2 linked regions of the Homo sapiens genome follow. The protein of the gene in region 1 interacts with the protein of each later gene in a biochemical or structural test. Each region holds a gene or a part of one and is shown on either strand. Other genes may lie near its edges. The genes, in order: IHH and CDON.

Region 1 (7,165 bases):
TATCTAGTTTATAATGCATTATTCTGTATTCATTTATGAGTAGCATTTGTGGCTTTGTAATTGTCTTTTATTTTCGTGATTTGTCTTTAAGGTTAAATAGTAAATTCCTCAAGGACAACTGTATCTTCTACTTTTCTGTTTGCATTCTGTGTTCTTATGTGCCTATTATACTACAGCATCAAGGTAGATATTCCCTAATAGAAAGAGATAGCGGCTGCTAATGACCACTGCTGTCTTGGGTCACCACACATGAGCCTCCTTATGTATTCCCCCTAGATGAGTAATAGGAATCAGAAAACTTGCTGCTGTCCCTAAGTGAACCCAGCAGAGGATAAAAGTGAATTATAAGTAACATTTGTACTTTAAAGCTTATATGTTTTAACCCTTTCAACAACTCTATGAGGTATGTGATATTATTTTCATGTTATAGATGAGAAAATGGAAGTTCAGAGTCATGTCTAAGGTCACACAGGTAGAAGGTAGCAAAGATGGTGTTCAGGCATGGGTTTGCCACCTCCAGGTCTACTGTTTCTACTGAGCCAGGGTTGCTGTGCACTGGGTCACTGGAGGGTGTTGGACTAACTGCATTCCTGAAACTTGTCTGGTTGTGGCTTACCACCCTTGGATTTAGAGCTGGATTGATCTGGTCAAGTGGCAGGATTAGGAGAAAAAATACTAGTTGACTATAGAAGTATGGACCTATGCAGTATGTATGTGGATGTGAAGATATGCTATAGAATATCATGTATATACTATAAGTACAATGTATTTCTACTATATAGTGTTAAATTAAGATTGACTAAAAATACTAACATGGTAGTCTACTAAGTAGATATTTAAATTATGTTCTATTATGTATTTCCCTCCATTTCTAACCTATTTTTTTAACTTTCACTTTTCTAAACAAAAAATTAATCATATTATCCAAAGCAATAGATAATTTGTTCTCTTCAAAATAGAGCTGATTGAAGGATAGAAGAGATCTAAAGGTGAAAGAAGAAAGTGATTTTACCAGCAGGCCCAGGAGGGTCGAGCCCAGTGAGGCTCGATCACTGCATCTCTCTCCTGATAATGAGGTCACATGTCCCAGGCTGTATGCCACTGGAGCTTCCATAGTGGCATACTCTGCCCCCGTCCAATTTTAATACTGCTGACAGAGGCTGGCAATGATCAGAAAAAGAACCAGGCCTTGTTTGATAGGTCTAAGGAGCTACTAGCCCAGTTTAAAAGCCACCCAACACCTACTGAACAGCTAAGAACATAGGCAGCCAAGAAATGACCCGGATACTGAGGCCCCAGGTTGGATTTAAAGTGCTCCAGGTCACTGCTGTAGAAATTATGGTGCTCCCAGTCTCCATCCTTCCTCCACTGAAGGAGGTTGGACTGATGTTGACCCAAATTTGAGATTCAGATCTTGGAGCACCATTATGTCCTGAGAAAAGAGTATAGCTTTGGAGTGCAAAAGCTCTGGGTTCAAATTTTAGCTCTGGGACCCCAGGCAAGTTACTTGGCATCTAGATCTTGGAGTTATAAATTTGTAAAATGAGAATAATGTCATGCACAGAGGATTATTGTGGAGATTTTACTAATTGTGTAAAGCACCTGGCAGAGAGAAAAGACTTGATACACGCTGGTCTCCCTCTGCTTCTCCAGCACACACCCTAATCACTGTTCCTAAATTAGCCTGGCAGAGGAGGGTCTGGTCTTGGTGAAGCCCAGTCTCAACCAACGAGGTGGCTCTGCTGCAGAGGCACACCTGATGGCAAGCTATGGGAGTACTTATAGCATAAAAACTTATTTGACATGGATCAGATCTTTACCAGATTTGTATTTAATAGGTTAGAATTACAGTCTGAGAGAGGAGAAATGAGAGGAAGAATGGAAAAGCTAATAAATGGTTATAAATTAGAACCTCTGAGAGAACTTAAAGAAATTGTCTTTTACTTGGAGAAAAGAAGATTGAAAGCAATTTAACAACTCTTCAAGACAATGCATGAAGGATAATCAGCAGGATAATGGCCCTAATCCCTAAGGCCAGAAAAAGAGGAACGAGTTGAATTTGCATTAGAGAGGGAGGGAGATAGATTAAATTTAAGGCGAAATTTCTCTAGAAGAATATTATTAAACAGTGGGATAGGTGACCGCAGAAGCCTATGGAATTTTCTTTCATGGAACTCCATAAAAACAGAGAGCCCCTGTTTGGTTTGTGAGAGGTACTGACCCTGTTCCAGAAATCTGAGGTAGAGGGGCAGGAGGGAAAGGGGATGGAGAATATCGCAGAGATAGTTCTTGAGCCCTGGAAAATACAAGTTAAAGCACTTGGAAGGCTTTCAGGGAAAAGAAGCAACATTCATCTTTGACTAGGAAACAGAATCTGAATGCTAATGCAAGAGAGAACATGCGGGGTGGGGAGAAGGTGCGGGCAAAGGGGAGGAAAGGAGGCGATCCATTTTGTTTCCACATTGCAGGCACCACTCCACTCCTAGTGGAGCAATCCTAAATTTCTTTCTGTGGGCCTCAGTTTCCTTTTCTGTAATATCAAGCGCTTAGATTAAGCACTCTCTTGAGTCTCATCCAATCCTGAATTTGTGTTTATAAAACCGATCCAGAGAGTGTGAGTAAATCTGTGAACAGCTACTTCAGCCCCGAACCCAGTGGTGTTGAGTGGACTGGTCCTGCACAGAGGGACAATGCACCTGCATGGGCAAAAACTGGGGCTGGGCCAGAGTCATGGGCTTCAATCCCTGCTTTTCAGCCACTAGCAAGTTGTTCATCTTCTCTGAACTTCAATATCTTCATTCGTAAAATGTGGACAGTAATAGCTCCTTTGGCCGTTTCGAGTTTAAATTAGATAATGCAAGTAGAAGACATAGTACAATAATATCTAATAACTACCATGTTCAGGAATATAAGTACCAATAAAATGGTACCTATTGTATTAATAGCATTTGAGTGAGAATTTTTAAGTCTTTTTATTTCTCATCTTTTCATTTCTACCTTTATTGGATTTGTAGAATCTATTACAGTCAAATCATATAGTTTGGTGTTGTGGTGGTGATGTTTTTTGTTTGCTTTTTAACACACTTGCCTTTACTTGTTTTGGCAGAAGGGATCCTAATTCATTCAGCTTTCTCGAATGTCATATAAAAACACATAACACATGTTCACGTTCCTAGTTGTTTCTACATATTCTCTGCTCTTTTAGATGTGTAATATAGAACCAAGTAATTATTTAGCAGTTCCGGTGGCTTTGCATCATTTTGGCATTCATACCAAGCCCCCGTTACTGAGATCTTTGCTGCCCCTCTTTAACATGGTCAGTCGGGGTTCCTCGGTATTCTGTTGACGTCACCATTTTAGCTACCCTTCTCTGCATATTGACCTATCCCTTTGCAACTTCATATTGTCACTTTCAACAGTGTTTCCAACTTAAAACCCCCTATTTGACTCTTCAAAAGGCTAGACTCCCCATCCCCAGTTTGACACCGACAGGCAGGCTGTGGGATGTGCACCAGGTTGATACAGAACCCAGCTCCACCAAGCTGAAAGGGCGCGTCGCCCGGGCCAGGGTGGGGCACCAGGTTATGAGTGGCCTCCTGCCTTTTGGGTTTGCTTCCCCGCAGGGGACACCGTAGGCGGCTGTGCGGTCCGGCCACTGCCCCCCGCCCCTCGCGTCCGGCCGCGCCGTGGGTTGCGGTCTCCGTGGGGGTGGCAGCTCCTGTCCGGGAGGTTTGCGCCTGGCGGGGCACCCCAGAGCCGCGAAGAGCCGGTAGGCGAGGCCAGGGCGGGGTGGGGCGCGTCCAGGCGGGGAGGGCAAACTCGGGCAGCGCAGGGGGCGCAGAGGGCAGCGGGCGGGCGGACGCGCGGCGGAGGCGCGAGCGGGACGAGGGCTGGCTAGTGCCGGGGCCGCCCGCCCGAGGGGGAGGAGGCTGTGCTGCCCTTGCTGCAGGTTCGCTGTCGAGCGCACAGGAGGCAGGGACATGGGTAGGGTGCGGTCTGCGCGGGGCCCGAGCCCGGATCTCTTCCATTTCCCCTCTCACTCGGCCCCGGGCTGCGCCGCAGACGGCAGCAGCTCCCGCTCCGCCCGAGCCGCCTGACCGCCGGGCCGGGGTGCTAACCGCGGGGCCCTGCAGCCCGCCGGCCCGGCCAGCCCAGCCCAGCCCGGCGGCCCGCAGCCCCGCCGCCCGCCGCCCCCCGCCGCCGCCGCGTTGCCAAAACAAACGGGCCGGCCTATTTATTGGCGGCCGGCGAGCCCGGCAGCTCAGAGTCGAGGCGCCGAGGGGGACAGCGCGCCGCCACCAGCTCGGGCCCTGGGCCCCCGCCCCGCACTTGAGTCCCGCCGGCCCTGGCCGCACCACGCCGCCCATGGCGCCCCCGCCTGGAGCCCCCCGGAGCCACCCGGACGCCTGAGCCCCCGCAGCGCTCCCGTCGACGCGCCTGCCCATCAGCCCACCAGGAGACCTCGCCCGCCGCTCCCCCGGGCTCCCCGGCCATGTCTCCCGCCCGGCTCCGGCCCCGACTGCACTTCTGCCTGGTCCTGTTGCTGCTGCTGGTGGTGCCGGCGGCATGGGGCTGCGGGCCGGGTCGGGTGGTGGGCAGCCGCCGGCGACCGCCACGCAAACTCGTGCCGCTCGCCTACAAGCAGTTCAGCCCCAATGTGCCCGAGAAGACCCTGGGCGCCAGCGGACGCTATGAAGGCAAGATCGCTCGCAGCTCCGAGCGCTTCAAGGAGCTCACCCCCAATTACAATCCAGACATCATCTTCAAGGACGAGGAGAACACAGGCGCCGACCGCCTCATGACCCAGGTGAGCGCGATCCGCCCTACCAGCGCGCCGCCACCGAAGCACGGCCACCTGCCCGGCCCTACCCACCCCCTGGCACATTTTCTCGACTGGCTGGCACGCTCCCTGGCACCTGCCCCTCTCGCCAAGCCCCGCTGCCTCCTGCCCAAGATGGGCTGGCCAGGGGTCCAGGCAGGAGTGTCGGCATCCCCAAGCCCGGAGGAGACTGCTAGAAGAGCTCCCCGCTGCCAAGCCCCACAGCCCAGCAGGTTGGCGGCGGCTCCTCTGCCCCAAAGTACTGGCAGCTCAGCCAGACGCTGCACCCGGAGGTACCTCTACCCGGCTGCCTCCTGCGCCTCCAGGACCCACGCAGTCCCTCCCGGCCTAACCTTCTGCACAGCTGTGCCCCTTTCATTTTGAAACTTTTCGGCACCCCTGAGGCAAAGAATCTCTGGGTGCGTAGGGTCACCACGGCCTTTCCTCCCTGTGCGCTCTTGGTTCTACGGGCTGCCCCTTCCAGGAGCAGCGTCCCGGCTGGGTCTGGGGTTAAGAACAGCGAGGAAGAGTTGAATCGGGAGGCGGAGGTGGGAAAAGGAACCTGCCCAGCGAGCCCACGTGTCTGTCCGGAGAGCTGAGGGGTGCTACTGCGGTGGAAGGGTGGGTTATTGGGGCCTTCGGGCTCTGGGACTGAGCTTAGGGGATTCCTGGGCTTGGTGGTGGGGACGGGAAGGAGTGGAAAAGAGGGGCTGAGATGCCGAGGGAGGCAGGGACCAGGGCTGACGCTAGTCTCTGCATGCTGGAGTAGGACCCGCGCTCCACCCAAGCTTAGAGGCGCAAATTCCTTCCCAGCAGCCAGGTCCGCGAGGGGAGAGACCTTCACCCCCTTCCTTCGGGGTCTCCCGAGGCTTCCCCCTGAAAGCAGGCCCCTGGCTTTCTAGATCCGTTGGGAAGAGCAGCTAGACTCAGGGCCCTCAGCATGCACCCTGGCGCCGGGGCTGGCCGGCCAGTGTCGGGGCCGAAGGTTGGCTGGTGGCCGGGCCGGGCCGGGCGCCGAGGAATGCAGATAAGGATCCGGGCCACGGGCTGGGCAATCATTGACAGCGCACGCCCGGGCTCTGGACCCGAGAGGGGGCGGTGGCAGTGAGGGAGAGAGGCGGGGAACCAGGGCTGCAGGCGGGCATAGGTGCGGGGCTAGAAGCCTGACGGCAGGGTCTACGAAGGAGCAAGCGGAGCTCCCTCCCTGGGCAGTAAGCACCCCCAGCCAGGCTGTGCACCAGCGAGGACCTGCGAGGCCCTGGGTTGTAGCTGCTATTGGCTCCTAGGAAGGCTGAGTCCAAGGGTCTGTGAGGCCCGGGCTCTGCAGGGTGGGGGTAGGTTGAGACTTGGGCTGCCCACACTTGTTGGCGCCTCGAATCTCAGAGTCTCAGAGTCGAGGACTGGTGGAAGGGCCTTTCCCCTCAGACCAAGGCCCTGGCCCCAGCTTCTTCTCAGAGTCAGCTGCACAGTCTCTTGGGCTCTCAGGACCCAGGCACACCAGGAGGCAGCAACCAAGGATGACCGCTTCGGTCCTTCCCCCAGGGCGCGGCTCTACCCCAACTCCACGTGAGGAGGATGGTGGAGCTGGCTCCCTGAGATCAGAAGCTTGGTTTATGGAGTTCCTTCCTACGGTATAGGGGCGGGGCACCGGTGCAGAGGTCCTGGAGGTCTGGGATTGTCAGCCCCTTTTGCGCCTTGCAGAGGAAGACGTTGCATGTGGCCCCCCATTGGGCGGCCCTGGCGCTAATCCGCCGGTTTCTGGTTCCCTGGCCCTGTCATCTCTGGCGGGGTTGTGGGCCGGTTTAAGATTATAAGAGGGTCCCGGCGGGAATCCTCGGTGGTGCTCGAGGGATCCAGGCAGGCCGGCGATTCCCCTCCAACACACCCCCTGAAGCTACCGAGACGCTCTGCACCTGCCGCGCCTCCAGAGCCTGTCGTCCCCAGGCCTCAGCCCTGAGGCTGCGGTGACACCTACTGGGCACCTCGGGCCTTGCACGCCTCGCAGGCCGGCCGCAGGCAGTCGGCTCTGCTGCCACTCCTCCCTCCCGGCCGCTGGCTGGCCCTCCTGCCTTGGAGGCACAGAGGGACCGGGCGCTGAAAGGTGTAGTCCTGTCTGTGGAGGGATGGATACCCGGAGCTGAAGACAGCACAGGAGAGAGGGGACCTCCACCTACCAGTGAAGGCGCCGCCAGGGCGCTTGCCTCCATGCCTCCTCCAGATTTGTGATACCGCCGTGCGGTCCAGATCCCCGGGGGCGGCTGTATGCTAGGGAGGGAGCACTTCAGGGCCCTCTGTTCCTAAGGGAGAGGGACAGCACCCTCCCGGGCTTCCAGCTCCCTTGGGTGT
Region 2 (5,546 bases), on another chromosome or scaffold:
CGCAGTCCCTGATTGTGGCCAGTTGCCGGAGGAGAGCGTCAAGGACAATGTGGAACCAGTCCCTACTCAGCGTACCTGCTGTCAGGACATTGTAAATGACGTCAGCTCTGATGGCTCAGAAGATCCAGCAGAGTTCAGCAGAGGTCAGGAAGGCATGATCAACCTTAGGATTCCAGATCATCTTCAGTTAGCTAAGAGCTGTGTATGGGAAGGTGATGCTTTCAGAGTTTCCCCTCTATGATTAGTTTACATATTTCTTGGGAGACTGGGTGGGGTGCTGGGTCCTTCAGGAAAAGATAGGACTCAAGATAAAGGATTCTTTGAAATTCTGTTATTACTCATGTCCTTCATCTCAGGCTGTCAATCCCATCACACTTTGGAAAATCTATTTGGAAATAGGCTTTGATTTCATTCGTAGGGTAGCAGAAGACTTGCTGGAAGAATGCATTTTGTGAACATGAGCCCCTTTTTGATTTGAGTTGGTTCTGGAGTTGTAACCTTTCTTTCAGGTGGTTATTTTAGGGCTTTTAAGGGGTTGCTTTACTTCTCAGGTGAATTGTATAGCTTCTCATGAGAGCTCAACTTTATTTTAAACCTTTTAAACCTTCTGTCGCCCTCAAATTCAAACCACACACAAACCAGGTTCTATTTATGCTCGTTTTTCTTTCTTCTTGGCTCAAAGTGTGAAGAAGTTTTTAGACTGCTTTGTAAAAATCAGCCTTTATCATTTGATAATGCTCCCAAACCCTGCTGTGTTTCAGGAGACAGCTGTGCCCATTCAGAAACAGAGATCAACATTGTAAGTTGGAATGCTCTTATTTTGCCACCTGTCCCCGAGGGCTGTGCTGAGAAGACAATGTGGTCTCCACCTGGCATTCCTTTAGACAGCCCGACAGAGGTCCTTCAGCAGCCCCGGGAAACCTGAGGACATGCAAACAACCAGTCATGTTCCAACTTCAAGCCGGTAACTGCACACAACAGGCCTGGGAGCGAACTGTGTGAAGGACCTTAATTCAAATCAGAGAAAATCATTATTTATTTTTTTGTAGTAGTAATGTCATATGAATGTATCTTAAAACGTGTGCCCTTTTATATTATTTATGCCTTAAATGTTTTCTTCCCCATTCCTTCCTCCCCCTCGGTAGGAAACAACCTTGTTTTGCATAGTATTCAGTCACCTGGAGGGCAGAGGGGTCCTTCCATGTTTTCTAACAGCTATAGTGACAGCAAGAGCTCCTCATGCAAAGGATCCCATCTCTTGGCTGCTTCGGCTAGGAGGGAATGCAGGGGCCCGTTGAAGGTTGCCACCAGCTGGGTTTTCAGGTGGAAAATGGTCTTTCAATAGTGTATTCTCAGACTTTTTTTTGTTTGTTTTTTGAGATGGAGTCTTGCTGTCATCCAGGCTGGAGTGCAATGGCTCGATCTTGGCTCACTGCAACCTCCGCCTCCCAGGTTCAAGCAATTCTCCCGCCTCAGCCTCCTGAGTAGCTGGGACTACAGGCACCTGCCACCACGTCCAGCTAATTGTCTTGTATTTTTATTAGAGACAAGGTTTCAGGCTGGTTTTGAACTCCTGACCTCAAGTGATCCACCCGCCTCCGCCTCCCAAAGTGCGAGGATTACAGGCGTGAGCCACCACGTCTGGCCTGTATTATCAGACTTCCTGAGAACACTTTGAAATCAACTGCAGTTGTGACCCATGTTTATAATAACAGACCTGGCTGACGGATTTTACAAGAGTGCCTTCCACAGAAGTGGTAATGTGACCTGTTGACTTTGTATCTGCACGTGGGCACGAGTGATGTTCAGTTTGCTAGGCACTAGTCATAGTGTTATGGACGTGGTGGAGTGTAAGGTCTTGATGAATTACGGCAGTATGCAGAAAAGGAACCAAGGCCAGAGAGACAAATAATGCCTCATGTCCCACTGCTTTAAAATTACATTAATTTATAAAATGGCCACTATGGGCTCTTTTTGACTGTTTCTCGGAGTAGGAACAAAATAAGACATTAAATGGTGGCTTGAAGAGAAAGATACACATTTTCAGAAGAAAGAAAGGGGAGGGCTGCAGGGAGCCTGTCTTGGCGGGAGCTCTCCAGTCTGTTGGATTAGCACAGGGACACGCTTATGGTGCCATGACGCCGAAACTAGTCATCCCCCATCTCCAGCATAGGCAACGGCCTGCAGGGGTGAGTGTCAGAAAAGACTTACTTTGGAAGAAAAGGGTTTTTTTTTGTTTGTTTGTTTTTTGTTTTTTTTTGTTTGTTTGTTTTGGGTTTTTTTCCTGAAATTTCCTGATACCTTTTTCAGAATGTCACCCTTGTAAATAGGCACCTAAAGCCAAGTTGGTCAGCAGAGCTCCTGACCACGGCTGCCTCTGCGTGACAAGGACATTTGCAGCTGCCTTTGGAAGGCTCTTCACATTAAAAAACAATAATTATGTAAGTGTGTTTCATAGCTTGAGTCAAGCTTTCAAGGATCACTGCTCCTTTGTGCATTGTGCATCCCTTTGGGGAAAGAAACAGAAAATTATTCTCTTTCTATAGAGTCAAGCAATTCCAGCAGAAGTGAAGAAATGTTAGTTTCCCAGAAATCGCAGTGGAATAGAATACAATACTGTGTTAACCAACTTTCTGTATAAATGCATCAGTATTCCCTTACATATGTCTATATATTTTATAATAGAACTGTTAGTGAAAATGTGCTTGTTTAAGCTGGGTCACTATGCAAGAGTTACTTCCAGTAGAATGTAGTGAATGTAATTCCCTAGTCGGATATTAGGGATGCTGTAGACCCAAGTTCTACATTCCAGATGTCCGTGCCTATAGTATACTGGATTTATTCTTCATGTTGCTTAAATGCAGTTAGCTCTGGAGGGGGATAGCTGCATCCCTTACTTCTGTGACTAGCAAAGGACAAAGTCCCAGCGCACAGAATATGAAAACATACCCTGTGTTAGCCAATCAAGTTACAGCAATGCTGTCACAAAGGGAGTTTTAGAAAACTGGGGAGTCATTGTCCGTAGACAGCCATTTTGATTTAGGAAACAGGTGTATTAGCATGAGCCTTAGGTCATGAACTGCTTTTAAAGATTGAGTTTGAATATGGGATCTGTCCACGAGGAAGAGAAAATGGCTTTACCTTTAGGACAATCTCATTGTGGACTGCTTTATTTATATTATTAGTAACGCTGTTTTAAGTGTTATTCTTTTTATTGTATTTTATTTATAAAAAATGCCTTTATATATTGAAATATATAAATATATATATATAAACACACACACACACACACACACACACATATATATATATATATATAATTGCCTTTATATTTAGGCGGTATGAGTTCTCCCTAAGCGTGAGTTGGCTCTGCCCTGCACAGGCACCCAAACAGTCCTACCTAATGTCACTTCACCAGGAAATGAGAGGACATGGTACAGTGTGGGAGACAGCACTAACACGTGCTGAATAACTACTGTGTACCAGGCACTGTGCTCGGTGCTTGTTACTGTTAACTCATTTAACCCCCACAACTCATCTACAAAGTTGGCATTAAAATCCCCAAGTCACTCAGTGAGCCATGGGACCTGAATCCGAACCTAGTTTATCTGGAGCCATAATCTGGGCTCCTCCCATTTTTCCATACTGCTTTCCAAAAGCATTGTGGTTCACTCTTTGGATGGAACCAGTCCCGTTCCGTATGCTGTGATCTATCCCTGCCGTGGAATTCCTCCGAGGCTCCAACTCCGCAGCCAGAGAAGCTGCTCTCTGGCCTCCGCGGGCAGAGCTCTGCTTATGACTTCGTCTTCCAGAGGTCCACATTTCTCCCCTTGACGCCCCCTGTCTACCACCTCCACCTGGAAATTTGATCTTTACTGTGCTCAGTGATCACGAAATTGGTCAAGCCTATTCATGTTCCTTCTCATCTAGAATTCTGTGTGATTGTTTTAGCATAAACTGCCCCGCTCCCACTGTATCATTTCACGATCTCCTTTTAATGTTTTTCTTTCAGTTTTGCACTGACAGTCTGGTGACAGGTGCTGCCAGGGTGCAAGTTACATTGCAATGTTCTAAACCTTTTGAAGTGTTCTTAGCAAAAGCCTTTCTTTCTGGGTGTTTTTGTCGAATGAGTCTATGAAGACTCAATGCATCCATCTTGGGCTGATCATGCCACAGATCTCATTCCAGCTATAGTACTGCCAAGAAGTGAAGTTTATCATTGAATTTTACCTGTGTTGCTCTCTTTTAAAGTAATGACTTTGAGATGCATGCTTTGTATCATATTGAAAAGTATGTTTTATTTTCCTTAAAGTTGTAATATTGTGTGTGAAACTGTACATATTTTAAATGATGTAGCTTTGGCAGGTTTTATTTGGTTGATATGATTTTATATTAAAAGAGAAGGCTGCTTTCATATAGCATAGCCCCTGAAGGTGGGAATACTCCCTGTTTGTACAACGCTGCTTATAGTTTGTGATTGGGGTGGGCGAATGTCTTCCTCTGAAATTCTTTGGAACCCCCCACCCCTGTCCTCCCCTGAAACTCCCCTGTGCACACCCCTCTGTTCTGACTGCAGAGATCAAGGCCCTGAAGGAGCAGGATCTTGGGCAAGTGTTTTAGGGGACGCTGAGAACATACCTGACCCTGGGGGCGATGTGGAGGCAGGCCCACCTCCTCGGGGCAACTTTGCGTTTCCTTGGAGGGAAGGGAGGTGGGTAGGAGAGGAGCTTGGGAGGATGAGGAGGAGCGGTCCCGCCTCACACATTGTCTATTTTTACCATTAACCGAGCGCCACATGTTTATGAACTTCAGGATAGAAATTTAGCCTCCTTGTGAAAACGTTTTGTTTTACTGCCCTAAGAAAATACACATCTCTAGGCTTGTCTGACCAGAAAGCCAGCAAAGTCTTTTGCATCGGGTGTGGCCCTTTTGTATTTTATTTCCCATATTTAAATAAGCCTTCCTTAAACCCTAGCCCCAGTCCTGAGAGCTTTGAGGGTAGCCGAAACCCCTTATCTAATAAAGTCTAACTCTGTGAGAACCACAGAATCTTCTTAAGCTTCTCAATTTTCTGTCTCCTTTCAGGCGCCACGTCCCTTGTGCTGGCGGGTCCCCCGTTGGCTTTCTTGCCGTTTCTTCTCATCTGTGTCTCCTGCAGAGGCGGCTCGGAGTCCCGAGTCTTCTAGTCAGTTGAACAAGCATTCATTTGTGTTTTCACCCAGATTACAGACACACACACAAACAGACACACACACTTGGAGCTAGTGAGTCATGCTGGCAGCTGACATTGTGACTCTGGAACAGCCCCGGTGCTCTGTGGGCCAGCTCCCCCAGCCTGGGGGCGGGAAGCTACATCTGCAGTACCTCTGCTCCGTATCTTGTGGGCTGCGACTCCTGGAGTCGGACCACTGCAGCGTCAGTGATGTTCGTAAGCTATGGTTGAGCAAAGGAACACACACCTACACACCTTGCTTCTTCCCACTAGCCAAACCTGGGACCCAGCCATCAGCCTGTCTCTGTGGGAGTCGCAATGGAAGTAGCCCTCT

Evidence for each region.
Region 2: the proteins of IHH (region 1) and CDON are reported together in a solved structure, tested with the Homo sapiens proteins (one study listed by IntAct).

Annotation. Positions count from the first base shown.
Region 1 is NC_000002.12:219,057,795-219,064,959, reverse strand, and holds the start of IHH (indian hedgehog protein preproprotein), read left to right. Parts: upstream 1-4,038; 5' UTR 4,039-4,492; coding exon 4,493-4,807; intron 4,808-6,209; exon of another isoform or gene 6,210-6,272; intron 6,273-7,165. UniProt on the Homo sapiens protein: Plays a role in embryonic morphogenesis; it is involved in the regulation of endochondral skeleton formation, and the development of retinal pigment epithelium (RPE), photoreceptors and periocular tissues.
Region 2 is NC_000011.10:125,956,321-125,961,866, reverse strand, and holds the end of CDON (cell adhesion molecule-related/down-regulated by oncogenes isoform 2 precursor), read left to right. Parts: coding exon 1-143; coding exon of another isoform or gene 144-212; intron 213-761; coding exon 762-925; 3' UTR 926-5,046; downstream 5,047-5,546. UniProt on the Homo sapiens protein: Component of a cell-surface receptor complex that mediates cell-cell interactions between muscle precursor cells. Promotes differentiation of myogenic cells.